Linked DNA regions of Homo sapiens. Changing the gene in region 5 together with the main gene of any one other region gives a genetic interaction. Each region holds a gene or a part of one and is shown on either strand. Other genes may lie near its edges.

Region 1 (4,929 bases), on a different chromosome or scaffold from region 5:
CTGACCTGTTGCTGGCAGGGAAAGTAGTAGAAAATGGATCGAGGGATGGAATAATGGCCTGAGAAAACTAGTAGTTGGAAAAGTTAAAGATTAGTACTGGAATTTAACATAAGCTTAATGCCAACTATTTACTGTGTTTGGTGTGTTACTAAAAGCAAAACTCAGGGGTTCTCTATTCCCTTCTCTGTAGCCTGAATCATTAATACGAAAGACTGGATATACCCTGGAAAGTCTTAAGCCTTGTCTCATGGACCTTCACCAGACCTACCTCAAAGCACCACAGCATGCACAACAGTCAATAAGAGAAAAGTACAAAAATTCAAAGTAAGAATTAACTTGGATATTGAAGCTTACTTTTCTAGATTATGGTTCAGAGATCTTTGACATTTTAACCTTATTCATGAATCTGCCATAGCCTCCTTGAGAAGCTGTTCTCTAAATTGGTTATGTGTTTGAAGAAGGTTGTAGTTCATGCTTTCTGCCCTGGGTCTGGGGGAGAAGAGAGAAGGAAGGGGGCATGCATGTGTGTTTCAGGGACCAGACAGTGTTTCTAAAACCATCAAGTCGGTCAGACAGAAATAGCATTTTTTAGTTCCCAATACATGAGTACAAACATTATTCCATGATCTCCTTTACCCAGTGAGTGTTTACTAAAAATGCTTTTTTTTTCCCTACTTACAGGTATCATGGTGTTTCTCTCCTCAACCCACCAGAGACACTAAATCTGTAACAATGAAAGACTGCCTTTGTTTTCTAAGATGTAAATCACTCAAAGTATATGGTGTACAGTTTTTAACTTAGGTTTTAATTTTACAATCATTTCTGAATACAGAAGTTGTGGCCAAGTACAAATTATGGTATCTATTACTTTTTAAATGGTTTTAATTTGTATATCTTTTGTATATGTATCTGTCTTAGATATTTGGCTAATTTTAAGTGGTTTTGTTAAAGTATTAATGATGCCAGCTGTCAGGATAATAAATTGATTTGGAAAACTTTGCAAGTCAAATTTAACTTCTTCAGGATTTTGCTTAGTAAAGAAGTTTACTTGGTTTACTATATAATGGGAAGTGAAAAGCCTTCCTCTAAAATTAAAGTAGGTTTAGGAAAACAGACCCTCAAATTCTGACATTCATTTTCCTAAGCAACTGGATCAATTTGCTGACTTGGGCATAATCTAATCTAAGCATATCTGAATACAGTATTCAGAGATAGATACAGTAGAGATTCCCCAGACTTTTTCGCTCTTTGTAAAACCTGTTTGTTTAGGTTTTGCGAGGTAAACTCAACAGAGGTTGGGAGTGGAAGAGGGTGGGAAGCTTATATGCAAATTAACAGACGAGAAATGCTCCAGAAGGTTTATTATTTTAAAGCACATTAAAAACAAAAAACTATTTTTAAAATCCTGCTAGATTTTATAATGGATTTGTGAATAAAAAATACCCAGGGTTCTCAGAATGGAATAAATATCCCTTTTAATAGTTATATATACAGATATACAACTGTTAGCTTTAATTGGCAGCTCTCTTCTTTTTTCTTCTTTTCACTGGCTTTTTACTTGGTGCTTTTTCTTGTTTTGCACTGGTGGTCTGTGTTCTGTGAATAAAGCAAAGTAAGAATTTACTAAGAGTATGTTAAGTTTTGGATTATTGAAATAAGAGGCATTTCTTAGTTTTCCAGTAGGATCTAAAATGTGTCAGCTATGAGTAAGACTGGCATCCAAGAAGTTTATATTATAGATTTAGGTCCTAATTTTTATAAATCACAAGGTAAAAAAATCACAGAACAGATGGATCTCTAATGAAAAAGGGATGTCTTTTTGTTTATAGTCATGTGGCAAGATGAGAGTAAAACCAGAGAGCAAACCTCTATAAGTGTTGAGTATATGTATACATTTGAAATAAACCAGAAATTTGTTACCTTATTTTCTTTGGATTCTTGTCTGGTTCCAAAATGATCATTTCTTCTTCTTCACTATCTGAGAGTATTATGGGAGCATCTTTGTTTTTTTATTAATTTAAAAAAAAAAAAAAAAGTTAAGCAATCTCTTGCAAAATTTATTTCTACATGAATTTATTTCTATCAGACGTTCTAAACTCTTATTTCTGGGGCTGGGCGTGGTGGCTCACACTTTTAATACCCACATTTTGGTAGGCTGAGGCAGGTGGATTACCTGAGGTCAGGAACTCGAGTCCAGTCTGGCCAACATGGTGAAACCCCAGCTCTATTAAAAATAATAGAAAAATTAGCCAGGCGTGGTGGCATGTGCTTGTAGGCCCAGCTACTCGAGGCTGAGGCATGAGAATCGCTTGAACCCATGGAGGTGGAGGTTGCAGTGCCACTGCACTCCAGTCTGGGTGACAGAGCAAGACTCCATCCCAAAAAATAAAAATAAAACTCTAGGTGGAGGCTTAATCTTTTCTTTAAATCAGCTTCTTAGAGCACTCTAGAACTCATCTGTAACATTTGTTTCTTTAAACTCTTATTTCCTACAGGTGCTTGAATGGTGTGACAATTTGGTACATGTCATAATAGAAAAGCTAGGGGGAAATGTATATAGCATCTTTTGTAGAGACAACTGAATTGTTTGTGCTACTCTATTCCTCCAGAAATAGTTCCAGTTTACATTCCAAGAAATAAAAGAACCCATTTCCCATATACCTTTGGCATTGCTGGTGTTTTTAATACTGCCCAAAATACAGTAACAAAAAATGCCATGTCATTTTTCTTTGGATTTTATTTGTATTACTGTCAGGGCTGACCATGAAAAATATTACTGGCCATTGTATACTTTGAGAACTGCTCCATGTATTTTGCCCATTTTTCTCCTGCTTATTAGTTAATGATATACATAAAATGTGAATTAACCCATATCAATTATTTGTATTTTTAGTTTTCAATTAGTTTCTCCCTTTGTTCACATGCTTTAGGAAGGCTGTACCTGCTCCATTTTTCCAATGCTTAGGTCCACCTTCATTATATTCAGTTGAAAATATTATTCACTGTTAGAAGAATACACTAAACAAACATATAAGAGGTATATGCAAGTGCAAGGATATTAACAGTGAGAAAATGGAAACAACTTACATCTTCAACAATAAGAGAATTGTTAAACCAACTAGTTATATTCAATGCTATACAAGTATATGCAGCATTAGCTTACATCACTGCACAGAGAGTAAATAAATACCTGGAACAAGTTCTGGAAGAATAATACCAAATAGAAGTAACCACTGGGAAATTTGAGTAAGGGTCCCAATCAATGGGAAATTTTTTCCTTACCTATTTACTTAAGTAAAAAAACAAAAAGCCCAGGCTCCAGTAATGTTCATAAGCAATAATTTCTCTCTTTGAAAACAGAAGTATTTGCATTACATTCCTATTAAACACATCACCTTCAATTTTCCCTGCCAGCCTAGCTCCCAGTTCCTTGTAGGATTTCTGTTCTTACCACGTAAGAAAATAAGTCATTCTATTATATAGACCAGCAAGAATTTGCTTTTTTTAAAAAGTAGAAATAACCATACATAACAACTTCAGTTCTATGGCTTTCAGAATGCAAGAAACGTCTAGGACTACCAGTATTCTAGTTACTTATAGAATTTTTTTATGTTCTAATACTGCGATGTCTAGCATGGTAGCCACTAGCCACATGTGGCTGCTTAATTTTGTATTAAGTAAAATTTAAAATTCAGTTCTCAGTAACACAAGCCACATTTCAAGTGTTCACTAGCCATGTGGGGCTAGTGGCTGCTATACCAGTGTAGATACTTAATGTTTCTATCATCATAGAAAGTTTTATTTAGGCAGTATTATATGTTATGATATGGGATGGGCTTTTTGTTTCAGTCTAGAAACTACAAAAAAAAAGACAGCAGGGAGGAATAAGATCTTCAAGAAACTCATTCCCTTAAAACCCACCCACATACATACACACACACAAAATTTTTTTAATTAAAAATATCACTATCATTTATGCCAGTGTTCCACTACTCTACAAAGATATGCATATTCTTTTAGAAAGTAGCATTAGTATTGCAGCTAGCCACAATAATTTAGTTGAAATTTAAATCACAATATTTAGCCCCTCTAAAAATGCAATACTTACATCCCTATATATAACTACATATCTATATTCTCTCTATATAGTATCCTGTATGTTATTTATCCACTATACATCTCTATATAGCTAATATGCTATATATTACTATATACAGTGATAATATAAATATACACACATTTTATGCATTATATATATAACTATACGGTAATACTATATGTATGTAATATATAGTAAGTGTGCCATAAAGTGTCACCTACCTTGGCTTCCAATATCAGAGACTTCTACTCCAGTGTCCATTTTTATACCATCAAGAATGATAGCTTGATCACCACCGCCTTCATCATCTTCCTTCTCAGAGTCTTCAAGATCACCCCAGGAGTTTTCTACTCCCTCTCCAATTTGGGCAGTTCCAGGAGTCCATAGCACAGGTGTAGAAACACTTAACAAGTTAAGAAAACTGAGTAACAAAAATATTGCTATTTGATGAACTGTTGAAGATGAGAATGAAAGTTTTCTTCTTGTAAGATTGATTCAAGTGTGCCCCAAGTTCCTAGGGGAAAAAAAACTTAATATAGCTACACTATGGATGGCTGAACAATGAAGAAGAAAAAAAACTCAGGCAAGATTTTATGGATGCAATTAATAAGAAATGTGAAGAGACAGATTCTCTCAACATTTTAGTTATAGTACTAAATTAAATTGGTCCTTAAAATCTGTTTTTTCCAGGATAACTGAATAGAAGCTGAATGTTATACCATCAACAGAATATGACTCACATCTCTATCTTGTATTTTAAGTGTTTTCTCTAACAAAGTACAGTGTTTACAAAAACTAATTTCAGTATACACATCCTTCATATAGCCTAA
Region 2 (5,329 bases), on a different chromosome or scaffold from region 5:
TACACTTAAGCACTCTTAACTTTCAATCCAGTGTTCTTTCCACTATTAGGACAGTACTCTCCTCCTAACCCATTTCATTTGCAGTTATTGGCACAGAACTACACAGCATGTGCTATACTCAGGGGAATATCCTAGGAACAAGATTGGTGAATTTCATTTTTATGTTGGAATATCCAGCAGAACCTTCCACAAGTGTTACAGTTTTTAGCATTTAAACAAAACTAAATGTGTGTACTAGTGACTGCAAATTATTACGAACACTTTGACTGCAATTACATAAAAATGACCAAGGGTAGAGACAAAGATTAGGATGTCAGATACCCTTTACTGAAGAAATCTATTTGGTTCCCAAGTTTGGACAGCAAAAGTTTGAATATCGAGGGATATATGCAGACAAAAATGAAAATAATAGCATTCACATGTTATAATTACAGGTAATATTTTCCTGAACAATTTCTAACTGCTTTTACAATTATTTTTGTTAAAAAGAGGGGGCAAATCTACTGGAAAAACCAGCAGTGTCATTTCAAAAGAAGAAAACCATGCATCTCCAATCTACTAGATCCAACAGGGAAAGGAAGTGCCTGAAGAATGGGAAGCAAATAGACATTGTTTTTCCATCCACATGTGGGGTAGGGGAGCTTTCTGCCAGCTACCCAGCTATAGTCTGAATGTTTGCTGGTATCCCCCACAAAATTCATGTTGAAATCCTAACCCCCCAAAGTGATGGTATTAAGAAGTGGGACCTTTGGGAGGTGATTAAGTCATGAGGGTAGAGCCCTCATGAATGTGATTAGTACCTTTATAAAAGAGACCCCAGAGGGCTAGCTTGCTCCATCCACCATGTGAGGAAACAGCCAGAAGGTGACATCTATGAACCAGGAATAGGCCCTCAATAGTCACCAAATCTGCTGGTGCTTGATCTTCACCTTGCAGAACTAGAAAAATCAATTTCTGTCATTTATAAGCCACCCAATTTATGGTATTTTGTATAGTAAACCAGACTAGGACACTGCCATGTGATGCAAAGAAATAATCCTATTTTGGAATTATTTATTTTACATAGAAAGAATAGCCTCCCTTTGGCAGATGTTTAATAACTAAATATTTAAGTAGAAAAGTATTTATGCTAGGGTCTCCCAGGATCTGAGGTCTAACTTTGATAAAGTACAAAGTGATATCTTAAAATTGTAGATAGTGTACTGCTAAGCTGATAATAAAAACAAGGAAGCAACAATAAAATGATAAAGTGGCAGATCAGCAAATGTACAATTACAGGATAATAAGATTCTAAGCTATATGTAAAAATGGTGAACTGGAAATTTCAATAAGAATAAGAAGGTGAATAAGCATGAGGTGAACCAGGGGAGATAGGCAGAGTCCAGTTGAGGTATTAGTTTGTAGATTTATCTTGTTTAATACCACTGTTATGGCAATTATTTGTTTTATTGACATATATTTGTTATATATTTGAGAAATAGTTCTATATTAACATATGTATGTCTGTATGTATGTACAGTTTTATATATTAAACAGTACTTTATAATAATTATATCAAAATTATCATATTAAACAGTACTACTAATATATGGCCAGCCAGTAAGAGTGAATACTGTCATATGCTTTTAGCCAATAAGAACTAGTGCACAATATTCTATTTTCCTAAATTTGAATGGTACTTACCAATCTTTTTGTTTCCCCAGTGCCATTCTGAAGAGATCTGAACCCACAAGAGTAGATAAAAAGCATGCAAATTTCTTTAATTTAATAAAATTAATTTATTAAATTTAATTTAATTTAAAATTCTTTAATAAAAAAAAGAAATATTTTTATTATTTCTTGGCTCAAGTGCCAAGAAATAATATCAACATAGATCGGTGATTTTCAACCTTGGCTTCACAATAGAATCATTTGGGGAAATCTCAAAAACAAAACTACTTATGCCCAGTCTCCACCACCAAACCAATTAAGTCAGCATCTCGGAGGTGGGGCTGTGATATCGGTATTTTTTACATAACTGCAACCACAGGTGTTAAATATATGTTCTTTGCTAAAGGCAGGTGAGAATCTTAAAAGGACTAGTTGAAGAAACATGGAAAAAATTGCCACTCAGATTGGTACAAATCCTTTGACTTTACAAGAGGCACTGTAAACATTACTGTAACCTGAGAAAAAGACTAACAACTGTATCAACTATAAGAAACTGGCCAAAAGCATTCTGCAATTTCAGGAATTTGCAAACAGCAATGTAAAGACTGCCAATATACAACACTGGGGATGTATTTATAGGGATTATGGTATGCCAACCAACACCTTACCATGCTGGTTCAGTTAGCATTACCATCCTCGAGAACACAATGCTAGCACAATCTTCATGGTTAAATAATAATCTTTCTGGCATATTCATACAATGGAATACTATGCAGCCATTAAAACAATGCTGTATAGAGTTTAATGATATGAGAAAATATTCATTAAACACTGTTAAGTGGAAAAAATTAGGTGAAACAGTCTTACGGTATTACCTATTATTTAATGTTATACACACATACATATGTTTAAGGTCATCCACCAAAATGGATATAATTTGAGTACAGATTATAGTTAATAAACACTGTTAACATTTTGGTCATTTTGCTTTTATGTATTTACTGAACTTTCTACAATATGCACAAATTAATTTTGTAATGTGAAAAATCATTCATTCATTACATATTTGCATCCAGTGTATCGATTATGTGCAATTCTGATCTGTGAACCTTTAAGAAAGGCAAGATGAGGCTGGGTATGGGGGTTCACGCCTGTAATCCCAGTACTTTGCGAGGCCAAGGCAGGTGGATCATGAGGTCAGGAGTTCAAGATCAGACTGGCCAAGATGCTGAAACCCCATCTCAACTAAAAATACAAAAATTAGCCGGGTAGGGTTGCAGGTGCCTGTAATCCCAGCTACTCGGGAGGCTGAAGCAGGAGAATCGTTTGAACCTGGGGACCGGAGGTTGCAGTAAGCTGAGATCACACCACTGCACTCTAGCCTGGGCAACAGAGTGAGACTCCATCTCAAAAAAAAAAAAAAGAAAGGCAAGATGGAATTAGAAAAGATTCTTCAGAAATGATCAAATGAAATTATTAAGTGTTCACTTTCTGCCAGCCACTGTTCTGAACACTTTACATTATTTAACTCGTTTATTCTTCATGAGGTGATTAGAATTATTATGTCAATTTTTTACTTGAGAAGTCAAACTTTTTAGCCTCTAAGCTAAAAAGGGAGGAACTAGGATCTGAATGCAGGCAATCTGGCCCTGGAGCCCCTACTCCTAAGCATTATGCTACCCTAACTCTATAATTGAAATTGTTTCAATAGTAGATCCACCTTTTAGGTGAAGTCTTACTATGTAATTCTAACTCATTGGAAATGCTCAAGAAACCATGGGGCAGCTCTGATCTAGATCTCACAAAACAACCTAACCACTGTTTTACATACTGACCTTTAGTTTGCTTTCAAGATCAAAGTCACAAAGGGCCCACAGTTAGCCAGTCCACCTAAAAATATTTAGATATCCTCATTGTGTTTTCTACTTCATCTAGAAAAGATTAATGAAATTTGTATATGATATAATTATGAGATATCTATTAGTAATCCAATAATGCAGTGGATCAGAATAACTGGAAAAACTGTGAAACAAATTTGAGGTTATCCAACAGCAAATGTAGGATTTGGATCTATATATTACAAAAGATAGAAGGTAGTAACTAGACACACAACCACAATACTTTTCGTTGCTGTCACCTAAGACTGCTGAACAACTAGTTGTATCAATAACAACTTTTGCCTTCATAGCTCTTTATCATTTTCATAGCTGAGTTCAGTGGGTATCAATACCCACTGAACTCAGCTGGTCAAAGACCAGCAGCACCAAGAACCAACCACTTTCCTCTAAAAGCAGTTACAGTAAGTGGATTAATCAACCCTCAGTGATTGGGAGCGTGAGACAATTTAACTGTATAACATGTTATCTATCTGCTTTCTTGGAGCTTCCTGCTGCCTATTTGGTGAGATCTAACACTTTCTTCAAGTCTGGACTGCCCTTCACGATGCCAGAGGAAAATGAAAGAAAATACAATAATTTTGAGGCAGAACAGAAAGGTAGATAAAGAAATTGCAAAAATCCTAAAAGGAGAAACATGCCATAAAAGGAATGAGGAAAAAAGATAAACAGGGTATCAGTTAGGGAGTCCACATTTGAGAAGAAAAGCTCATCTCTCTTCCTGCCCTAAGTCTAAATTTTCAGTTAAACACAGAGGAAACACCCTGTATAAAATACTCTGTCTACATTATTTTGTAAATTTTACTCTCTATTGTATTATCTGAATAACTGTCCATCTTCGGTAATATGGCAGCTTGTACAGGCACCTAGTAAATACCTAAAATATGATATCTATTATCAGTGTAAATACTGAAAGTACACTGATAAGAAAACAAAAACATACAAAAATGAAAATACATTGAATTATCTGGCCTGGACAATTAAGGTGATTAAATATAAAACTGTTTGGTTGAGATATCTGTTTATTAAAAAGTTATTCCTGGACTCCTAAGAGGTAAGACATCATTAAAAGGCCTTAGAACAAGGCAGTAAAGTACAGTGGTTAGGCACTAAAGTACAGTGGTTATTAAGTTTTTGTCTGAGTCGACAAAAACTTAATAAAAACCACTGGGTCTCAATTGGGGTGATTTTGCCCCCATGAGACATTTAGCAATGTCTAGAAATATTTTTGTCGTCATACAAACAAACAAAGTGGGGAAGGGTAGTGGTACTACTGGCATCTAGAGGGTAGAGGCCAGGAATATTGCTGGACCTCCTACACAATATACAGAACAGTCCCCAAGAACAAATAATTATCCATCCCCAAATGTCAACAGTGCCAAGGGGAAAAACCCTGATGAAAAATTTCATTATGCCACTCATTAGCTGTGAATTTAGGCAAGTGATCTATCCTCTCTAAGCCTCAGAGCTTCCTTATCTATTATTGGAGATTTTAATAGTACCTGTTCTAATATGGTAGTATGAGGATTAAATAAAAAAATGAACTTAATAGGCTTAGCACAGTGTTTGGTATGTAGTAGGCGCTTTTATAAATGTTCTGTATACTATTAAAATAGTAAAAGTAAGCCTAAGATTCAGATCTTTACAGACATTAAAAGTTTAGGCAAACTTTATTATTCAAAGTCAAAATTCCTAAAGGAAAATACTATGGCACTACAATCACAAAAATATTTGTGTGTAAAATTTCTTTCCTTGTCAATTAAACAAAGCATCCCATCTTGATA
Region 3 (5,329 bases), on a different chromosome or scaffold from region 5:
ACCCGCAGGATCTGCTGCTGCTGCTGCTGCCGGATGTGGTACTGCTGCTGCTGCTGCTGCTGTTGCTGTTGCTGCTGCTGCTGCTGTTGCTGTTGCTGCTGTTGCTGCTGCTGCTGCTGCTCAGGTAGGATGGCTGTTGAACGGACGCCTGCCTGGACGCCCTGGGCACTCATTGGAGTCATGGTACTTATCATGGGTGTCTGCTGCAGTGTCTGGTGTGAAAACCTCCAAAGATAAGAGGGTCAGAGGTCAAGGCATGAGGGAGGTGAGGAGAGGGGGTCAGTATAAACCTTGGGTCCCTGACCTGAAAGAAACGTTAGCAGGTTATTTCATTCATTCCTCGTGTCACTAACCAGACTTCCAGTCTGGGGAATAAGTTGCATAAGATGATACTCTATTTTAGTGTCTCATAACCTTAATGGTTAGGAATTTTTCAATTCTGCATTAGCTATTTTTCTGTTACAAAAATGAAAAATAGGGCTGGGTGCGGTGGCTCACACCTGTAATCCCAGCACTTTGGGAGGCTAAGGTGGGTGGATCACTTGAGGTCAGGAGTTCTAGACCAGCCTGGCAACATGGTGAAACCCCATCTCTAGCAAAAATACAAAAAAAAATAGCTGAGCGTGGTAGTGGATGCCTGTAATCCCAGCTACTCAGGAGGCTGAGGCAGGAGAATTGCTTGAACCTGGGAGGTGGAAGTTGCAGTGAGCCAAGATTGCACCACTGCACTCCAGCCTGGATGACAGAGCGAGACTCCATCTCAAAAAAAAAAAAAAAAAGAAAGAAAAGAAAAGAAAAAAATAGTCTTAGCACAAGATAGGCATTCTATAAACACTCATTGAGGTTTTTTGCTGTTGCTGTTGTTGTTCCCAAATAACATTTCAAGTTGTTCTACCACATGTGTATATCACTTCAAGAGTCTACTGGCCAGGCTCCCCGTCTCAAGTCTTCTTTTTTTTTTGAGACAGAGTCTCACTCTGTTGCCCAGGCTGGAGTGCAATGATGCGATCTCGGCTCACTGCAACCTCCACCTCTCAGGTTCAAGTGATTCTCTTGCCTCAGCCCCCCAAGTAGCTGGGATTACAGGCACATGCCACCACACCCAGATAATTTTTGTATTTTTAGTAGAGACGGGATTTCACCATGTTGACCAGGCTGGTCTCGAACTCCTGATCTTAGGTGATCTGCCTGCCTGGGCCTCCCAAAGTACTGGGATTACAGGCATGAGCCACCGTGCCTGGCCTGAAGTCTTCTTCTTGCACCTTCCAGTACACATCCTATCCATTCATTCCAAGGAACCTTGCAACATACCCAACTCCTCCTATCACTCTTCTGATCAAAAGAGCCCTTTCTGGGACTGCGTCTCAATTCTTCGGCTGAGCATTCAAGGCCATCTCTCAGCCTGCCCCCTCCTAGCCTAGCCCCAGTGACTTCCCCAGCACAGATTTTACACTCCATCCAGGCCCTTCTCCCCAGGCACCATCCTCATTCTGGTCCCCATGTCTTTGTTCACGTTACATCCTCTACCTGGAATGCCCTTTCTTTTCCTCTTCTCCACAAATCCCAATCACAGCTATTCTTCAGAGGCCAACTCAAGTCTGACCTCCTTCATGAAACATTCTCTGATGAGTCAGGCCCACAGATATTACCACGTACTTTTTCTCAATCCACATTTTACCTCATAGCATACAACTGCATACCTGATTATATCTTTGCTCAGAGTGTTCTCTCAATATTCTTCTATAAGTCTCATCTCCCCAGCTATAGTAAAGATTCTTTGTAGTGAGGAACTATGTATCGTGGGGGTTTTTTTTGCTATCTTTCTTCACCTCACCCAGTCCTGGTATAGTGCTGGCCACACAATGGGCAGTTAGCCCACTCCCCAGTGTTCTTAATCCTAAGCTTCAGAGTCTCTATACATGGTTACAAGGCCTCAACTAAGGCTTGACTAACGTTAACCATGGTGGGAGGATTCATTCATTTGTCCATCCTGGTATTTAACCTGGTATTCAAAGCCGGTACTGGCTTTACGACTCCTTATCATGTAGTTCATCTATGAACTCCAGATATTTTTTTCTTTTTCTTTTCTTTCTTCTTTTTTTTTTGAGACAGGGTCTCACTCTGTCACCACTGGAGTGCTGTGGCACAATCTCGGCTCATTGTGCGATTACAGCTCACTGCAGCCTCAAACTCCCAAGCTCAAGCAATCTTCCCACCTCAGCCTCCTGAGTAGCTGGGACTACAGGCATGCACCAACACGCCTGTCTAATTAAAAAAAAATTTTTTTTTGGCCAGGTGTGGTGGCTCAGTTCAAGACCAGCCTGGGCAACATGGCGAAACCCCATCTCAACTAAAAATCCAAAAAATTAGCTGGGCGTGGTGGTGTGTGCCTGTAGTTCTAGCTACTTGGGAGGCTGAGGTAGGAGGATCACCTGAGCCTCAGAGGTCGAGGCTGCAGTGAGCCATGATCATGCCACGACACTCCAGCCTGGGCAAATGGAGTGCGACTCTGTTTCAAAAAAATATGTATTTTTTTTGTAGAGATGGGATCTCCCTATGTTGCCCAGGCTGGCCTCGAATTCCTGGAATCAACTGATTCTCCCACCTTGGGCCCCCAAGTGCTGGGACTACCAGTGTGAGCTACCACACCCAGCCCAGATTTTTCCTTGAGTCAGATAAACAATTTCCCCTCTCTGGGCCTCAAAGAACTGTTAAGGAAGTAGTCATGAAACTATTGGTCTCCAGGGTCCCTTCCAGCTCGAGACTTCTGTGGTTATGGGCTATGTGGCCAGATAAGTATTCTTGATGTCTCCGAAAGTTCTGACCAGTCCCACCACTTTCAGGCACAGGCTTTCCCAAGTCAAATGCTCCCTTATACCTCTGCATCTCTTCCTAGCTCACCACTACTTTGGGTACCTTTGAGTGGAGGTCAGTCCATGTCCATAGGTGGGGGCCTGCTGGTGCACATAGCCACTGGGCCGCTGTTGCAGGTGGCGGGTAGGATCTACAAGAGTAGGATTGGTAGAAGGGTGGGTGCTCTGGTAAGGCTGGCTGGAGTAGCTGGGGGGCACCATGGTACCTGCAGGGCCTGTGTGTTGCTGCAATCCCACATGAGAAACATAAGGAGTATAGCCCTGGAGGGAAGAAGGAGAGAGGGAATCAGGGCCGAGAGTATGCAGAGCAGCTTGCCTCATCCCCCTAGTCTCACAATCCCAGGCTCTTACCTGGGAAGTCTGCAAACCGTAGGAAGAGCTGGGAGTCATCTGATGGACAGATGACTGTCCCAACATGCCCTGACTCTGCTAAAGGGAGAAAAGAGAACAACTCAAACTCAGGAAATGCTTGCTGCCATCTCATCTCTTGTGTCTCCCACCCTGAGTGTCCTTGTGAAGATCCCAAGTGTCTCCTCCGTCCTGTGACCCTCAAAAGCCCCTCTCCCTGACAGCCCTCCCTACTGCCCCTCTCACTATCTTTGCCTGGAGCTGTTGGCGAAGGCGCTGTCCTTGGGGCACCGCAGGTTGCTGCTGCCGGTACACAGAGGTCTTATAAGAGGAGGGTTCTAAACCCATGACGCCAGTCATGGTTGTGGGCAGCACTCCAGGGTAAGTTGGTCGGGTGGGCAGCTTCTGCATTGGTAAGCGCACAGGACGGTATGGGTCCACACGAGGGCCACCTGAAAAGGAGAGTGGGCTGACCTCTAGGCTCCTCATCCCTCTGTCTCTTGCTCAGTGTCCTTGACATCCATAGCTCCTCAGGGGAATGGCATCATCCTTTGGGCAGGGGGAGTGTACAGGTAGGTCCCTCCAGCATTCCTAGTGGCTGGCACTCACCTGCAGGTAGTGGCTGGTTCTGGGTGTACAGGCCTATGGAGCCTTGCCTGTAGTTAAGGTGTGTTATAGAACCAGGGTTTGGGTGGTGCAGGAGGTCCGGAGGCACTGTCACACCATAAGGGCCGCTCCGACCCGGGCCCATTCCATAGTCCTGTGTGAGTGGCAGAGGAAGAGGGTGAGTGGGTTGTAGCTGAATGGGGTCGGGGAGCTGGGGGAGAATGAGGTAAAGAGGAGCTGAATTCGTATATGGTTAATTTTTATTATGATTCTAATGGCACCCCTTCCTTATGCGCCCCCACCCCTCCCACAAACCAGAAACCGGAGCGTCATGAAGTGAGAGGCTGTGGGAGAACTGTCACGGGGGAGGCGCTCACCTCTGTCTTGGTAGCTGGCTGGCTGCGTTTCTTGCCCTTGGTGGACTTCTTCTTGCGTTCCTCAGTACTGGGTGGAGCAGCCCCCGGTTTGTCAGTTTTGGGGGGCTCTGGAGCCTTTTTCTCAGGCTCTAGCAGGGTAGGAGCAGGCGGCTCCTCATCTTCTGGGGGCAGTGGCAGTGGCTCCAGGTAATAGGCGCGGGGCCGGGGCCTCAGGTGTGTGTGGTAGAGCAGCAACCGCTGCTGCTCCTCTCCTCGAGCCACTCGCCGGTCCACTCGGACTGTTCCAAACCAGCCCCAAGAGAGTGGTGCTGACGGCTTCAACCCCTCAAAAAGATCCCAGGGCGAGATCTTCTGTTTGGTGGAAACCTGTAGACCCTGCTCCAGAAAATGAAAAACAATAAGCTGTTGGGACTTAGAAAACAGAAGACTGCAAGCATTTGTAGGAATGGGTAGAAAGAAAGTCATAGGCAGATTCAGGAGAGATGGTAAGAAGCAGACAGACAGACATGGATACACATATACATGCGGAAGAGAGTTATGCGGGGAGAGAGTGAAGGGTGGGGCACAGGGAGAGGTGTGGAGGCACAAGATGAAGCCAGCCCAGACCAGGAGAGGAGATGAACTAACGGGGCGGGGGGCGTGTGGGGAGAGAAGATCGGGAGAGAAAGGGGTTGGGGAGAAAGCCAGAGAGGGAGCGGGGAGGGAGAGGGATTGACATTCAGAGGAAGACAGAAAAAGGAAGGCAGAGAAAGAGAGAGAGGAAGGCAGGGAGAGACTCTGCCTTTAGGCAGGCCGAGAAAGAGTCAGAGAGAGAAAGAAACAGGAAGAGAGAGACAAAAAGGTGGAGAGACAAAGAAAGGCAAACGAGTCAGACAGGGAGAGAGACAGAGACGGAGGAAAAGAGACAGATGGACTAGGAAGACAGATGAAGAGAATGTATATATGAAGGAGTTAGACTTTGGGTTTTAAACTATACACAATAATTATGGTTACTCAACAAATACCGCAACTGACAGAGAGGGAAAAGATAAAAGTGTGCAGAGATGGGTGGGTGTAGGGAAACACAGAAATAAAAGAGATACAGGCTGTCGGCCAGATAGATGGGTGGGGTAGGACATGGGGCAG
Region 4 (5,329 bases), on a different chromosome or scaffold from region 5:
ACTAGGAACAGCTGAACATCTAGTCCTACCATTTAGCATGTTTCACACAATAAATGTTTGATGACTTTTGTGGACAGTCAATTTAAATCATAAATGGCATCTCTTATCTTCCCTATAATTACAAGTTATCATTCACTCAGACTTACCCAGTGCAGGCCCAACTCCAAATGCCTCACATGATCCTCACAACCAGCCTATGAAATAGACACTAGTATTCTCCCCATTTTACACATGAGAAACTGAGAGACATTAAGTAATGCAACGTAAGTACCATAATCTAGAAAATGGCAGCGCAGATTTAATCTCTGGCAGCAGGACTCCAAAGATCATGTTATCATAATTAGAAGAGTCTACTCTTCAGTATCCACAGGGATACCAAAATCCATGGATGTTCAAGTCCTGGTATAAAATGGCAGGGTATTTGCATATAACCTATGCACATCCTCCTGTTACTTTAAATCATCTCTAGATTACATACAATACCTAATATAAATGCTATGTAAATAGTTATTATATTGTATTTTTAAGTATGTATTATTTTTGTTATTGTATTTTTATTTTTTATTGTTTTTTTCCTGAGTATTTTTGATTTGTGGTTGGCAGAATCCACATACGTGGAACCCACAGATAGGAAGGGCCAACTTTACAGTCATCCAAAATTGTTCTCTCAATATCAATATATGGCTCTGACCTAATTGCTCCGAATACACCACTGGATCTTTGAGATACCTGCTTTCTCTTTTTACAAATACAGGAAAACACCAATCTACAACCCATCAGAAATAATGAAGGAATGAATGAATGGATTGTTCATTTTATGTTATGTAGCCCACAAAGAGTGAAGAAGGATACCTCAAGTAGGATTTTGAAGCTATGAGTTGGTCTTAACAAGTTACACTTAAACACGCCCTGTGGTAAACTACAAATTGATTTTTGACAAGATAATTACAGCTGGCAAATGCTAAACAGAACCAGACTTCACAGGTGTACGGTCAAATGTCAAGTATGGCAAGCAAATGCTTTAAAGTTGGTACAGAACTGGGCAATGCCATGGCCTCTAAATGCCATTTTCATCTTTCCTCAACTCTGAAACAGGAGCACGAGTAAGGCCAGCTCCCCAGGTATATGGGCTAAGACTGAAAACAAGCTTGTTACTGAAGAACAAAGTGAAACTGAGACGGTGTCTTAAAATTAACAGTCAAGGTTCCTCTCAGATTTTCTTTTCTATGCCCTTTTGGTGATAGTTTTGAGGTAGTAAAATCTGGTAGAGAATCAGTGTATAGCACAGTATAAAATGCACTAGCCAGGAACAGAAAGATTAGTGCTGGTTCTGCCACTAATTTTCAGTGTGACCTTGGGCACTCAGCAAATCTCAGGTGCCCGATTTCCTCATCTGTCAAATGAAAGTACTAAAGTGCCATGCTAGATCACAAGTGGCAAACTCGTTGCTCACAGCCTGGTTCTGTTTGGCCTGCAGTCTCATGGTGACCTTCAGCAAGGCCGAGCACCTGGGGCTCAAGGCAGACACGCCACAGTGCACCCAGCCACTTCCCTCATCCCCGTTGCCTGCCTCATTAGGCATCTGCACTTGTGAGCTCAAGGCTGACACCTTGAAAACTGGTATTCTTCTAAGAGCAAAGGAAAAAAATCTCTGGAACATGAAAGGGCACAATGAGAGGAGCAGCACTCTAACAGCAGACTCCCCGTGGGGCCACAGGCTGGACAGGACCACCCCTTCCCAGTTACTCCTTTCTCTTCCTTGTATCTCTGCCAGCCCCAATTCCCTACCCTCAGTTTTGAACTTCAAAGACAGTGACCACATCCAATTCAATGGCACTCTCCCTCCCTTTAACTAATACAGAAGAGATGAACATACTTCCATTAAAATATGATAAATACTTGGTTAAAAAAAAAAAGCTTCATGTGTGTCTCGTTTCCTCCATTTAAAGACTTCCAGAGGGAAAGTATATGATATGGCTACTATTCCTACACCTACTACAGAGTGCTGCATAGACCTCATCGAATCTCCCCAACTAGCCTATGACCTTGATCATCTAGTTTGTATTTTATAGATTAAGAAACAAACTCAAAAGTTACCAACACACCCAAGGTAAAACCGCAAGCAGCAGCACCAGGATGCAAACCCCAATCTCCAAAGCCATTTTTTTTTGTACTCACCCCATGTGAGTGACAAGTGGCACAAAAAAGAGGTTGTTGCCAAAAGAAGGTTGAAGAAATCTCTATTTTTCAATCTCATCTGAATATCTCCTTCTTCTAAAACCCAAACCCATTATTAACAGTGTGAGGTCCTCAAGAGTGGAAATGCATATGAACCATGCATTTGCATCTCTAAAATAAGCAGTATTTCTGCCTGTCACCCAGGTAAGTTGCCTAAACTTTGGGACCCTGCAGCAAACCATTAAGCAGAAGTCACCAAATTCCTTCATACACATTGGAAGGGAGTGGACAAACTTATAAGGTAATACCACAGTGCTGAGCACTTCTCATATTTCCTGGGAGGAAAGCAATACAATATCACCAAAAAAAATGAAAGACATATGCTTCTAGCAATATGGCACACTGGGTCCACTGAAAACCTCTCCTCTTACAAAACACCTAGAATTGAATAAATAATAACATTCAGAGCAGTAAACTATTTGCCTTGAAAGTTCAGAGACTGTAGATACAGGAAAGCTCAGCAAGGTATAGCACTTAAGATAGAAACCCCTGAATAAAACCGGGACTGGGCACGGTGGCTCAAGCCTGCAATCCCAGCACTTTGGGAGGCCGAGGCAGGTGGATTGCTTGAGCCCAGGAGTTCAAGACCAGCCTGGGCAAAATGGCGATACCCCATCTCTACGAAAACTACAAAAATTAGCCAAAGCGTGGTGGTGTGCACCTGTAGTCCCAGCTACTCAGGAGGCTGAGGTGGGAGGACCACCTGAACCCAAGAGGTAGAGACTGCAGTGAGCCGAGATCACTGCACTCCAGCCTGGGTAACAGACCACTGCACTCCAGCCTGGGCGACAGACTGAAACTGTCTCAAAAAACAAACAAACAAACAAAAACATTACAATTAAAAAAAAAACATAAAAGAGGACTCTTGAAGGGCCACACATGAGTAAAAAAGGTGGGCCATAACAAAATACATCTGGGGGCCAGGCACAGTGGCTCACGCCTGTAATCCCAGCACTTTGGGAAGCCAAGGCAGGTGGATCACCTAAAGTCAGGAGTTCGAGACCAGCCTGACCAACATGATGAAACCCCATCTCCACTAAAAATACAAAAATTAGCCAGGCACCTGTAATCCCAGCTACCCAGGAGGCTGAGGCAGGAGAATCGTTTGAACCTGGGAGGCAGAGATTGCAGTGAGCCAAGATCACGCCACTGTACTCCACCCTGGGCAAGAGAGCGAGACTTCATCTCAAAAAAAAAAAAAAAAGACATTATAACTTGTAACAATTTATGCAGTGTGTAATCTTTGATTGCATTTTGATATTCTGGTGTTTTTTAAAAAGCCAAAAACTGAAACAACTTGGAAAGATGTTTTCTGATTTCTATCACCTATATTTTCTTTTCATTAAAACAATTTAACTTCGTTGTCTTTGAAAGCACATTTGTTAACTGCTCATGGAATCATATGATGAGCTGCCAGGCTCCCTCATCTTTGTGATTTCTCTACCACAGTGGATATGGTTACCTACTCCTTTCTTTAAAGGTTCTCCTTTCTTGGTTCCTGAGACACCATTCTCTCCCTGGCTCTGCTGCTCATTTTTTAAAAATTAATTAATTTAATTTTTAATTGACAAAAATTGGGGGAATATAATAGCATTAGCAAGGTGGGTCTGATGATGGCACCGTGGTCATGTAGGAAGACATCCTTACAACTTACTGTCAAGTGGTTCAGAAATAAACTAGAGAAAAAGCAAATGTCACAAAATATTTATAACTGGCTATCTAGGTATAGGGTATAGAGGGGCTCATCACACTATTCTTTCAAGTTTTTTGTAGGTTCCAAACTTTTCAAAATGAAAAGGAAAAAAATATTCAATAGATTGGATTAATCAGTCACTTAATCATAGCTTAAGAGACAATTAGACTGGAACAAAGATCTAAAAGAAATTACCCATAATTTAGCAGAGTCAAAAAGATAACAAATATGAGAGGCTAAAAGACAAAGAGGACAAAACGAGAAGCTCTAGCCCAGGGTTTCTCAGCTTGACTCCATGACGTTTGTGGCCAGATAATTCCTTATTATGGAAACTGCTCTGTGCACTACAGGATGTTTAGTAGCATCCCTGGCCTCCACCCACTAGATGCCAGTAGCACCCCCAACCAAGTCGTGAGAACCAAAAATGTCTCCAGACGTTGTCAAAGTCCCCTGCAAGGGCAAAACTGCCCCAGGTTGAAAACCACTGCAATCTTAACCTCATCTCAGTGGAGTTCCAGAAGGAAAGAACAAAGAGAATGGGGAAAGGCAATAGCTGAAGAGATTAACGCTGACAGTTTTTTTGTTTTTTTTTTTTTTGAGACGTAGTCTTGCTCTGTCACCCAGGCTAGAGTGCAATGGCATGATCTTGGCTCACTGATACCTCTGCCTCCCAGGTTCAAGCGATTCTCCTAAGGCTGACAATTTTCCAGAATTGAGCAGAGACATAATACTCAGATTCAAGAAGCACAATTAGCATTAAGCATGATAAACAAAAATTAATCCACTCTGACATATAATAGTGAAACACCAAACCCAAAAATATCTCAAAAACATGCAGAAAGAAGACTCAAAACCCTCAAAATTAGACTTCTCAAAAACAACAGAAGCCAAAGGAGCAAATAACATTGAGAGAGAAGTACTGTGAAACAGTACTGAAGAAAATATCTGTCAACTGAATTATATAGCCAACATAGCTCTTTTTCAAAACAAGGGCAACATAATGAATGCAAACGTGAGAGACTTTCCCACCAACAAACTTCTAGAAGAAATTTCTAAATTATTTACTTTAGGAAGAAGAAAAATGGAGGGAAAGAGAAGGTCTAAGATATAAGGAATAGCAAGCAAATAAATGGTAAATGCACTGGACAAGCTAATGTTGCCTGGAGAGAGGTAACTGAAGCTCACATCTGTATGGCACTTTACAGTTTAAAAAACTGTTCACAATTTGCTTTTATATAGGAAGAGAAAAAACTGTTCACAAATATAGCACTTCTTCCTCTTGTAAGATACCAATATAAGATACACAATCAGTAATCATTTCAAAATTATAATGCAAGTCATTATCTTACAATCGATCAGTTTAATAATTGCTTGAAATAGGTAGAGTATGCTTTTGCT
Region 5 (5,329 bases):
CACTGCAACCTCCGCCTCCCGGGTTCAAGTGATTCTCCCGCCTCAGCCTCCCAAGTAGCTGGGACTACAGGCGCATGCCACCACACCTGGCTAATTTTTGTATTTTTAGTAGAGACGGGGTTTCACCATGTTGGCGAGGCTGGTCTTGAACTCTTGACCTTGTGATCCACCTGCCTCAGCCTCCCAAAGTGCTGGCGTGAGCCACCGCACCTGGCCTATTTTTATTTTTATTTATTTGTTGTTTTTTTTTTTCAGACAGAGTTTCGCTTTTGTCGCCCAGGCTGGAGTGCAATGGCACGATCTTGGCTCACTGCAACCTCCGCCTCCTGGGTTCAAGTAATTCCCCTGCCTCAGCCTCCCGAGTAGCTAGTGTTACAGGCACCCGCCACCGTGCCTGGCTACTGTTTGTATTTTTAGTAGAGATGGGGTTTCACCATGTTGGCCAGGCTGGTCTTGAACTCCTGACCTCAGGTGATCCACCTGTCTCGGCCTCCCAAAGTGCTGGGATTATTGACATGAGCCACTGAGCCCGGCCTTATTTTTAATTTTTTGTTTTTTATTTTTGGAGACAGAGTCTTACCCCGTTGCCCAGGCTGGAGTGCAGTGGCACGCTCTTGGCTCACTGCAGCCTCTGCCTCCTGGGTTCAAGCGATTCTCATGCCTCAGCCTCCAAGTAGCTGGGACTACAGGCATGCGCCACCACGCCTGGCTGATTTTTTTTTAGACTGAGTCTCTTTTTTTTTTTTTTTAGACGGAGTCTCGCTATGTGGCCCAGGCTGGAGTTCAGTGGCACGATCTCGGCTCACTGCAAACTCTGGCTCCCAGGTTCACGCCATTCTCCTGTCTCAGCCTCCCCAGTAGCTGGGACTACAGGCGCCCGCAACCACGCCTGGTTAATTTTTTGTATTTTTAGTGGAGATGGGGTTTCACCGTGTTAGCCAGGATGGTCTTGATCTCCTAACCTCGTGATCCGCCCGCCTCGGCCTCCCAAAGTGCTGGGATTACAGGCGTGAGCCACCGCACCCGGCCTCACTTTGGGATTTAAAAAAAAATTTTTGTAGCAACAGCCTCTCTCTGTTTCTTATGCTGGTCTCAAACTCCGGGCCTCAAGTGATGTTCTGGCCTCAGCCTCCTAAAGTGCTTGGTGTTGGTTTTTTGTTTTGTTTTGTTTTGTTTTTTTGAGACGGAGTCTCGCCCTGTCATCCAGGCTGGAGTGCAGTGGCGCGATCTTGGCTTACTGCAAGCTCCCACTCCTGGGTTCACGCCATTCTCCTGCCTCAGCCTCCCGAGTAGCTGGGACTACAGGCGCCCACCACCATGCCAGCTAATTTTTTGTATTTTTAGTAGAGACGGGGTTTCACCTTGTTAGCCAGGATGGTCTCGATCTCCTGACTTCGTGATCTGCCTTCCTTGGCCTCCCAAAATGCTGGGATTACAGGTGTGAGCCACCACGCCCGGCCCAGGTGTTGGGTTTTTTTTTTTTTTTTGAGACAGTGTCTTAACCATGTTGCCCAGGCTAATCCGGAACTCCTGGACTCAAGCCATCTTCCTGCCTCGGTTTTCGAAAGTGCTAGGTTTGCAGGTATGAGACACTGTGCCCAGCCTGTTTGAGATAGGATCTCGCCCTGTTGCCCAGGCTAGCATGCAGCGGTGTGATCAGAGCTCATTGCAACCTTGAACTCCTGGACTCAAACGATCCTCCTACAACAGCCTCTTGAGTAGCTAGGACTGTAGGTGCACACCACTATGCCCAACTAATTTTTTTTTTCTTTTTTGTAGAGACTGGGTCTCGGCTGGGCGCAGTGGCTCACGCCTGTAATCCCAGTACTTTGGGAGGCAGGTGGATCACGAGGTCAGGAGATCGAGACCATCCTGGCTAACATGGTGAAACCCCTCTCTACTAAAAATACAAAAAATTAGCTTGGCGTGGTGGCATGTGCCTGTAGTCCCGGCTACTTGGGCGGCTGAGGCAGGAGAATCACTTGAACCAGGGAGGCAGAGGTTGCAGTGAGCCAAAATCATGCCATTGCACTCCAGCCTGGGCGACAGAGCAAGACTTTGTCTCAAAAACAAAAAACAAAAAAAAAGAGAGACTGGGTCTCTCTGTGTTGCTGAGGTTGGTCTCAAATTCCTGGCTTCAAGTAATCCTCCTACCTCAGCCTCCCAAAGTGCTGGAATTACAGGCCTGAACCTCGGCGCCCAGCCTGGATTGTTTTTGTTTTGTTTTATTCTTGTCTGGTTTTTATGTGTGTTATCCCCTTGTATGAGGACCTGCAGCCATGCCATATCCTGAAATGCTTGGCAACAGAAACTGACCTACATGGTCTTCACATTTGGTTGATAAAAATCAACTGGTGAAATCCCAAATACATCCCTTGTAAGTTAGAATTAGTTGGAGGAAAAGCTTCCAGTGGGCCCCATCGGGCTCCTCTTCTGCTGGCACTTTCTCCTCCTGGGCACAAGGCTCCCTGTGCTTGGCCATCTGGATTCTAAACCTGAGAAACCTTTCTCAGAACCCCTGGCAGCTGTGGACTCTACTCAGCACTCTATCAGTTGTCTGCGTTCAGGTAGAGAGACGCAAAGGAAGAGTGTTGTGGAAAGCTCCGGAAGAGTCTGGTTTTGACTGGCGTCTCTGTCCTCTCACTTAGGTCGCTGAGATTACGGGTGTTGTGGAAACTGCCAAAGTTTACCAACTAGGTGGCACCAGAACAAACAAAGGGCTGCAACTACGGTAGGAGGCACTTCTGGGGTAGCTTCTGCTTCCACTTCAAACAGGCACTGGCTTTGGGGGCTGCTGTTCTCTCTGTGTGATGTTCCTTGTTACCATGAACGCTATGTATGCAATCCCCACAAGGTACACTTGGAGGGAGACTTGTATTCCATCTTTGTCTATAGGGAAGGTAGGATATTCTCTCCTCTAGAGGGAACCAAATATATGAAGGGGTAGGACACAGAGAAAGGAAATGTGTGGTTATGAGAGACCCTCCCAGAGCCTCGCTGGCATTTCCTTGGCAAGCATGTCCAAGAGGCTTGCTTCTGGTTCTGGCTCTATGTCATAACCTCATCTGTGACAAGAAAGATCATTTTTATGGACTTCATTTCCTCTTCAGTAAAATGAAAGTGTCATTCACTCAGCAAATATTTACCGAATGTACAGTGTGCCAGGCACTGCTCTAGGTGCCATCATAGTGCACTGCAGCTTGGAACTCCTGGGCTCAGGTGATCCTCCCACCTCAGTCTCCTGAGGAGCTGTGACCACAGGCATGTAACCCTGTCCCAGGCTCTGTTGCATATTGTTGATGTTGACTGTAATGGATTTTATTGTAAATTGACTTTTGAAGCACTGACCAAGCCCATTTGGTTTCCAGTGCTAGCTTTGGGATCTCAATCTTGGCAGCTCATTAAAACAGCCTGGGATGATTTTATAGGGTAGCTAGGATTGAGAACCACTGCAATAGGTATATATAGGTGGTACATAGTCTGGTAAGGTTGCTTTGCTTGTACTACAGTCAACATGCACATTTCTTGGAGATGCTGTCTCTCTTTTATGTAGGCATGGCAATGACCAACGCGTGTTCCGTTTAGAGTTTGTCTCAAACCAAGAATTCACCGAAAGTGAGTTTATGAAGTGGAAAGAAGCGGTACGTGGCTAGAGATTACCTAGCAGTTGTTCGTGCACGTTGAGAAAATATCTTTCCAAAATCCCTTACTAATAATCTCGTATCGTGTTTTTGATCCAGATGTTCTCTGCTGGCATGCAGTTGCCCACTCTAGATGAAATCAATAAAAAGGAATTATCTATTAAAGAAGCTCTTAATTATAAATTCAATGATCAGGACATTGAAGAGGTAAGAAAACTGGTGCCCCAGAACCCGGAGGTTCATCAAGAACCAGTGTTGAGAGAACATGATTCTCTTTTATTTCCCTATATCTTGACATTTTTAGCTATGCATGAAAATGAGGGAATACTAATATTACTACCTGATTATTTATAGTTCATCAAGCTTTTTTCTATACATTCTCATGTCCGGATGAGGCTAACATAGACTGAAGTGTATTCAGAGTTCAGATGAGACAACAAATGAGGCTACATACACTAAAGTGTATTTAGGGTTCAGGGGTCTGTATTCTGCTAGGCTTGATCCTTCAAGAGTTTTCCTTTTCTAAAACATCTTGGTAAAATTATTTGATCTCTGTTCTCTTGGACAGTGGCTAGCCTTACACTACCAGGCCCTTGGGCTGCTGTTTCTTGGTGCATGTTCCTTCAGCCTGTCCCAGAAGAATCTCCGTGACCCAGGAAGCAGCATAGTATCCCTTGGAATGAACCCGCTCTCTCTCTCTCTGGGGCATGACACTGCTGTAGGAAGAGCAGCCCCTTTGTAACTAGCTGTTTGCATCCAAAATGGGCTCACTTAGCCTGTCTACAAAAATAGCTTAGGAATACCTCACTGCTGGTATCTCCTCTCTGGTACAGATTGTAAAAGAGAAAGAAAGGTTCAGAAAAGCTCCACCCAACTACGCTATGAAGAAGACTCAGCTACTGAAGGAAAAGGTAAGGAGTTGTACTCGAGCCTCTTTCCTCATCCTGTAAGGAGATGTGGAAATCAAACTTGTTCATCCTCTGCCAAGTTAGTGGTGGTAGGATTGGGAGAAAATTCTGGGCTCGATTATAAGCAACACAGTGTGTTCTTGGCACCTGGGCAACGTTCCTTGGCCATTTTCCATTCCCTAAATTCAAACTCATCTTCTGCGTGTGTGCCAGTCTTCTTACTTTCTAGTCACTTCAGTTTCCTTTGTAATAAAATAGACCCTGGGGTGGTATTTAACACTGAGTCTGAACAGACAGATGACACTGTCAAGGCCACCTGTGGCTGGTGATTTTCCATTCTTCACACTGGGTTGGGGTGGGCCTTGTTATGGTGGTTTAGCCACCCTGTGAGGCCTGGGGTTCTACTGCCACCAGGGACCCACAGCCAGGTAGCTGTATGGGAAGGTGTTCCCCACTGTACTGTGCACTACTATAATATAAATTATATCTTGTATTTGTAAAGTACTTCTACAGTATTCTTCCACATCTCCTGTCCTTTGCTCACCACATGAGATATCTTTGCCTGTGCTGGAAGTAAGGGGATACTTGATATGGAGTCAGTTGTATGTAGCCAAGAACGAACTCACACATCTCTCTATGTGTAGGCCATGGCTGAGGACCTGGGGGATCAGGACAAGGCCAAACAAATCCAAGATCAACTGAATGAGCTGGAGGAACGGGCAGAGGCCCTGGACCGCCAGCGGACCAAGAACATATCCGCTATCAGGTGTGTTATGGAGC
Region 6 (5,329 bases), on a different chromosome or scaffold from region 5:
CTACCCCACAAAATCCCCAAACCATTAGGTGACTGGGCCCTACTTGTCCAAGGGGAAAGAAGGGTGGCTCTATTCCAAGGCGCCTACCCAGGCTTAACCTAGGAAACTGAAGCTTCCTGGTAAATTTGGAGCCTCAGTTGTATAAATATTAACACCCTCATTCAACTGGGAGCAGAGGGAGCATAACCTCCCCACCCTCTCTGTACATAAGCCTTCCCATCCCCCCATGCTACCCCTCCCAGTTGTCTGGCACACGCCATGCACTCAAGGCAAGAAACCAACCTGACCTCTTTTAACCTCCCCCTCCCAAAAGTAAATCTTGCCCGCTGAGCAAGTCCATTTTAATGCTAACCTCCCATCCTTGCTAGAAGGAAAGAGGAGGGAAGGCAGATAATCAGGCCACTAACACTGAGTGTGAATATTAGGACTTTAAACCTGTTGAAGGTAAGACACAAGCTCTTAGTACAAAAAGAAGGCCGACAGAGGGCCTGACCAGAAGCCTGATTTCCAGGCTGCCATGAGGCCAGCGAACTCAGGGACAGGGAGAAGGGGCAAGGGCTTACTGGATTATCTTTATGGGACATCTTAGAAGCAACAAACATAGGCAATATCTGCTTGCCAAGAGTATCCATGGGCAAGAGCCACATGTAAGCTCTGAAATGGAGATAAACCAGCATCTCTTCAGAGACGCTGCAGCACCTGATTTTTCTCCCTGACTCCTCTGCTATGCTTTAAGCACTGAAGCTCTTCCAAAAACAGGGGACACAAGTAGGCGGTGAAAGAGACTTCACCCTAGAAACTGAAGCAGAGAGGTTCCCTCCTTACTAGATATCTACATGCTGTTCAGATTCCAGTGACAACACCAAGACTGCACCAAGCACTCCTGACTGCATGTCCCTTTTTCAATTGTCAGAAGCCTGACAGCTCCCAACAGAGTACTGATGGAAGTAGGAGGGAGACCCAGGAGTCCTTTTCTGTTGGGGATGACATCTCTACCTTCTATGGGAGGAAGGCAAAATGAGCCTTCCTTCTTTCACCTAGAACAATGGTTCTCACCCCAGGCTGCATGTTAGAATCACTTATAATTTTTTTTTTTTTTTAAATAGACAGCCGGGCAATGGTGGCTCAAGCCTGTCTGTAGTCCCAGCACTTTGGGAGGATCCTAATTCCAAGTGATCCACCCGCCTCGGCCTCCCAAAGTTCGGCCAAGGCGGGTGGATCTCAGGAGTTCAAGACCAGCCTGGGCAACATAGGGAAACCCCAACTCTACAAAAAATATAAAATAGCTGGGTATTGTGGCACGTGCCTGTGGTCCCAGCTACTCAGGAGGCTGAGGTGGAAGGGTCACTTGAGCCTGGCAGGTGGAGGATGCAGTGAGCAGAGATCATGCCACTGCACTCCAGCCTGGGCAACAGAGTGAGACCCTGTCTCAAAAAAAGAAAAAGAGAGAGAGAGAAAAGAAAAAAAAAAAAAAAAAAAGGCCTGGGCCCACTTCTAGAGATTCTAATGAATTATTCTGGGGTAGGGCCAGATATCCAGGTGATTCTAACCTACAGCCAGGACTGAGAATCTCTGCCTGTGTGTAGGTATGTGGGGAGAGGGTGTGAGGGGGACATGGTGGGACATCATTGAGAAAGAAAAGCAGATAGAAGGAAGCTCCTTCCTTCATCTCTGCTCTGCTATTAGAGCAGGAATCAGTGTGGGTGACAGCTTTAAAAATAAGGGAAGAAGGAAGGAAAGGACAAAGTATCAACTTTGATCTTTACCTCTTCCTCAGGGAATTACTGGGCAGAGGGGTAAGAGCTATAGATCAAGGGAAAACAAAAGGACTCAATGTCCCATATGCAAGTGCCCGGGGGGAGAGACATTTGAGTCCCAAATGATTATCTCTTTAACCTGTTCTGAAATGTTACGGCCAGAACACCCACCCATCTAATAGCTGTGTGATCTCTGGCCTCTTATCAACTGGGAAGGGCTCAGGCTAAGGATAGACAACCATCTTCTCTGAAGTTCATACTCAGGAATATGCCACTTCTCCCTGTGAAAGCCCCAATCCAGGCCAATCCCACCCATCCTCTTTTGTTTAATCCTCTTAAAAAAGAGGAATGGGAGGCATAACCTACAGACCCAGGAAAAAAATTAATCATAGCTACCATTTGTTAAGCCCTTATTATGGGCGGGCACTATGCAGATGGAACCTACTTTCTTATTTACGTTCCTAAGTAGGGAAAGCGGGGAGTAGAAGAGGGTCAACACATAGACGGTGAGTCTCAGAGGTTCTGGACAGTCACAGGGACAGAGAGCATTTTCATTCCTGCTGTGGGAGAGTGTCCTGGGCCAGTTGGGCTACCTGGCGCTGGCATCCTCTGGAGCCTCTCCAAGGCTGTGGCCCGGGAGCACACTCTAGTCCTCCAGTAGCACCTACTCCAGCAGTGTCTTGAAGATCTGGGGCATGAGTTGGGGGCAGTATAATTACAGTGACTTGTGAGATAGGAAAAGGCTGGGTGTGGGACTGAATAGATGAATGAAAGATTTAGTAGAGTCTAAAGGACAGAGAAACAACTGCTCATCATAGCACACCCCGTTAAAAAGCAGATGAAAGGTCAGGCTTCTTACCAGCTCCTTGTGGTTTCCCCAGAGGTGAGAAAATCAAAAGAGTTAAAAGGAAAGGGAGTGGGGGAATGGGGATGAGGGAGGGAAAAAAAAGACAAAATTGTTATTAGCAAATTGTCACATGCACTACATGACAGTCTTCCAACACACTGCACCACAGGGCCCCAGGGGAGCCTAGCGAAATTTAGGGGCCAAGAAATTTCAGCTGGGGTCACCATATACCCCAAGAGAAAGAAGAGCATGAGACCCTTTTCCCTCTGGTGGTGAGGATGTCATGAAGCTTTGCCATTAACAGCAGCAGTTTAGGATCATCTGAAAACTAGGAGTTAGATGTTACCAGCCAGTGGCATGGAATAAGAAACTGGGGAGAGAAGGCTGAGGTGGTGGGGAAGCTATTAGAAATGGTAGAAGATGAAGCAGAAGTTAGAAATTCTTAGACTTGTAGCTGATAGAGGGTCAATAATTCTCAGGAGAGGAGTTCCCCTTCTTAGTTCATGGCCCTTGTCTTCCTATCTCTTAGTTTCTCTAGCTGTGAAAAATTAGACATTTGGATGGCAGAATCAGTCACAATGAGAGTGATCAGGTAGGAAGTCTGATATGACTTTAGGTGAGACAAAACAAAATATGTCAGGTACAGATGGTGAGTTAAAGGAATGATGAAGTACCTAAGTATAGCCCCGTTCTCATTTCCTCCTGCAAGGGAAGAGGCAGAGCTGCTCCTGGTCCCTTGTGCAGCCTGGCATGTTTGCCTCCACCTTGAGTGGCTGGTAACTCACCCTGCAGCTCCGAAGGATCTAGAGCAATTCTGCCATGATGTACTTACACAGAGGGTCCAGGGGACATCAAGATTCACAGGTACTAGCACATGTGCAGAACATGTTTCTTCAACCCTCTGTTCACAAGATTCACAGGGGTTGGAGGGTAAACAAAGGGGAAGGGTGAGAGTATTTCCAAGAGGCCTTATTTGAGTCTGGGCCACATAGATAAGGCTCCCACTTCCGGGCAAGGCTGGTTTAGAACTGCCAGAAGGGGATATCCAGTGGTATGTCCTGCCTTTCTAGGAGCTCTGCTGATGGGCAGATGGTTGAGGATGGTTGTATGCATATGAAAAACCATGGTGGGATTAAAAACAAGTGCTTCCTTTCACCAAGATTTCATCCAGATACCTCTTAATCACAACCTCTCTGTTCCCTAGACGATGCTAGGGTCCCAGCCAAGATTCCTCTTTCCACCAGGCACGGTGTCTCACATCTGTAATCCCAGCACTTTGGGAGGGCGAGGTGGGTGGATCACTTGAGGTCAGGAGTTCGAGACCAGCCTGGCCACCATGGTGAAACCCCATCTCTACTAAAAATACAAAATTAGCCAGGCATGGTGGTGGACGCCTGTAATCCCAGCTACTCGGGAGGCTGAGGCAGGAGAATCATTTGAACCCGGGAGGTGGAGGTTGCAGTTGAACCCGGCAGGCGGAGGTTGCAGTGAGCTGAGATCATGCCACTGCACTCCAGCCTGGGTGACAGAGTGAGACTGTCTCAAAAAAAAAAAAAAAATTCCTCTTTCAGCTCAGGGTAGAGGTGGCTCCAGATCCTGTGGTCGAGGCTGGGATGTCTCTGCATAGAGTGGGTGTAAGCACCCATAAGTGCAAACATGCAAACACAAAGGAGAAGTACACACACTATACCTTTCTCTGATTTGTCCCACCAAGCTAAAACCAGCTTGGGAGAAACTCAAGGAGAGAAAGAAGACAATGGGCCATAAGCTCAATTTCAAACCATGCGGATTGGGCAGAATAGGGAGGACAGAAAATCAAATAAAAGGAAAAGTGGTATATTAGTTTGCAGATAGTATATACCACCTCCAGGTCTGTCCTATGGGTGGGTTGAAGGTTGATGAGATTTTAGGCATGATTCCTGCATAACCTGGAGTAGTACTAGTCACCTTGATTGGAAGATTTCAAGTGCCCTGGCCCCGGGTGCCAGCTTACCTAGTACGTGACTCCCAGTCTCTTTCACTAAGGGACTCCCAGACCCCCCAGGGCTGTTTGGCTAAGTGGCTGTGCCTCAGAGGGCAAGATCTGAGGTTCTAAATCAGACAGGGAAAGTGGCCACTGTTACTCTCTGAGCCTATTCAGGCTGTACGCCAACACTGCAGCCAGGGTACTTCAAAACCATGATGACAAGGAAGATGGACAGAGCTGTAGAGTAAAACTGTCCGGGATGGATCAATATATTGCTGACCATCCATCCATTTCAAAAGGAGGGGTGCAGAAACAGAAAGACTCACAAAAGCACAAATAATCCAAGTTATCTTACAATTGCATATAAACCTCCTTCTCATCCCATTTACATTTCTCTAAAGACCTAGCATAGGGGAATATTAAAATGAGTTTTTCCCAGAGATAATCCACATACAGCCAAGAACTGAGGACTGTGGCTGTCATCCCTTTTGTTTTCTATCCTTGTCTAGAATAGCTAAAAGTCATTCCATAAAAAAATCTTCATTTGATCTTAGTCTGAGGAGGAGAAAGGAAACTGCCTTCTAACTCCAGCCCCTAAATGCCTCATGTTCAAAAACATTTAAAGCCTCCATGCTTCTATCCCATCCTCCACTGGACAGTTTTACTCTGCAGACCTCACAAGGGGAAGAGACAATGATTCATGGATCATAGCTGTTTCTAACCCTTGATTAATGATCTTTAAACATAAGGCCAGCAGGC

What was found.
Region 1: changes in RTF1 (region 5) and EXOSC9 together harm fitness less than expected from each alone (positive genetic interaction), as found in Homo sapiens cells (one large-scale study listed by BioGRID).
Region 2: changes in RTF1 (region 5) and SEC22B together harm fitness more than expected from each alone (negative genetic interaction), as found in Homo sapiens cells (one large-scale study listed by BioGRID).
Region 3: changes in RTF1 (region 5) and MED12 together harm fitness less than expected from each alone (positive genetic interaction), as found in Homo sapiens cells (one large-scale study listed by BioGRID).
Region 4: changes in RTF1 (region 5) and RUVBL1 together harm fitness less than expected from each alone (positive genetic interaction), as found in Homo sapiens cells (one large-scale study listed by BioGRID).
Region 6: changes in RTF1 (region 5) and DCTN2 together harm fitness more than expected from each alone (negative genetic interaction), as found in Homo sapiens cells (one large-scale study listed by BioGRID).

Annotation. Positions count from the first base shown.
Region 1 is NC_000004.12:121,813,439-121,818,367, reverse strand, and holds the end of EXOSC9 (exosome complex component RRP45), read right to left. Parts: intron 4,503-4,929; coding exon 4,321-4,502; intron 3,019-4,320; coding exon of another isoform or gene 2,996-3,018; exon of another isoform or gene 2,720-2,995; intron 2,225-2,719; coding exon of another isoform or gene 2,174-2,224; intron 2,000-2,173; coding exon 1,921-1,999; exon of another isoform or gene 1,597-1,920; coding exon 1,512-1,596; 3' UTR 1,347-1,511; downstream 1-1,346. Other genes in the region: CCNA2 (cyclin-A2), read left to right, coding at 191-324, 682-730. UniProt on the Homo sapiens protein: Non-catalytic component of the RNA exosome complex which has 3'->5' exoribonuclease activity and participates in a multitude of cellular RNA processing and degradation events.
Region 2 is NC_000001.11:120,169,182-120,174,510, forward strand, and holds part of SEC22B (vesicle-trafficking protein SEC22b), read right to left. Parts: intron 1-5,329. UniProt on the Homo sapiens protein: SNARE involved in targeting and fusion of ER-derived transport vesicles with the Golgi complex as well as Golgi-derived retrograde transport vesicles with the ER.
Region 3 is NC_000023.11:71,135,531-71,140,859, reverse strand, and holds part of MED12 (mediator of RNA polymerase II transcription subunit 12), read right to left. Parts: intron 4,580-5,329; coding exon 4,205-4,579; intron 3,982-4,204; coding exon 3,831-3,981; intron 3,674-3,830; coding exon 3,477-3,673; coding exon of another isoform or gene 3,468-3,476; intron 3,303-3,467; coding exon 3,225-3,302; coding exon of another isoform or gene 3,135-3,224; coding exon 2,917-3,134; intron 226-2,916; coding exon 3-225; coding exon of another isoform or gene 1-2. UniProt on the Homo sapiens protein: Component of the Mediator complex, a coactivator involved in the regulated transcription of nearly all RNA polymerase II-dependent genes.
Region 4 is NC_000003.12:128,113,103-128,118,431, forward strand, and holds part of RUVBL1 (ruvB-like 1), read right to left. Parts: intron 1-5,329. UniProt on the Homo sapiens protein: Possesses single-stranded DNA-stimulated ATPase and ATP-dependent DNA helicase (3' to 5') activity; hexamerization is thought to be critical for ATP hydrolysis and adjacent subunits in the ring-like structure contribute to the ATPase activity.
Region 5 is NC_000015.10:41,471,972-41,477,300, forward strand, and holds part of RTF1 (RNA polymerase-associated protein RTF1 homolog), read left to right. Parts: intron 1-2,648; coding exon 2,649-2,731; intron 2,732-3,553; coding exon 3,554-3,641; intron 3,642-3,740; coding exon 3,741-3,848; intron 3,849-4,474; coding exon 4,475-4,552; intron 4,553-5,193; coding exon 5,194-5,315; intron 5,316-5,329. UniProt on the Homo sapiens protein: Component of the PAF1 complex (PAF1C) which has multiple functions during transcription by RNA polymerase II and is implicated in regulation of development and maintenance of embryonic stem cell pluripotency.
Region 6 is NC_000012.12:57,535,903-57,541,231, forward strand, and holds part of DCTN2 (dynactin subunit 2), read right to left. Parts: intron 2,623-5,329; coding exon of another isoform or gene 2,617-2,622; intron 2,446-2,616; exon of another isoform or gene 2,351-2,445; intron 1-2,350. UniProt on the Homo sapiens protein: Part of the dynactin complex that activates the molecular motor dynein for ultra-processive transport along microtubules. In the dynactin soulder domain, binds the ACTR1A filament and acts as a molecular ruler to determine the length.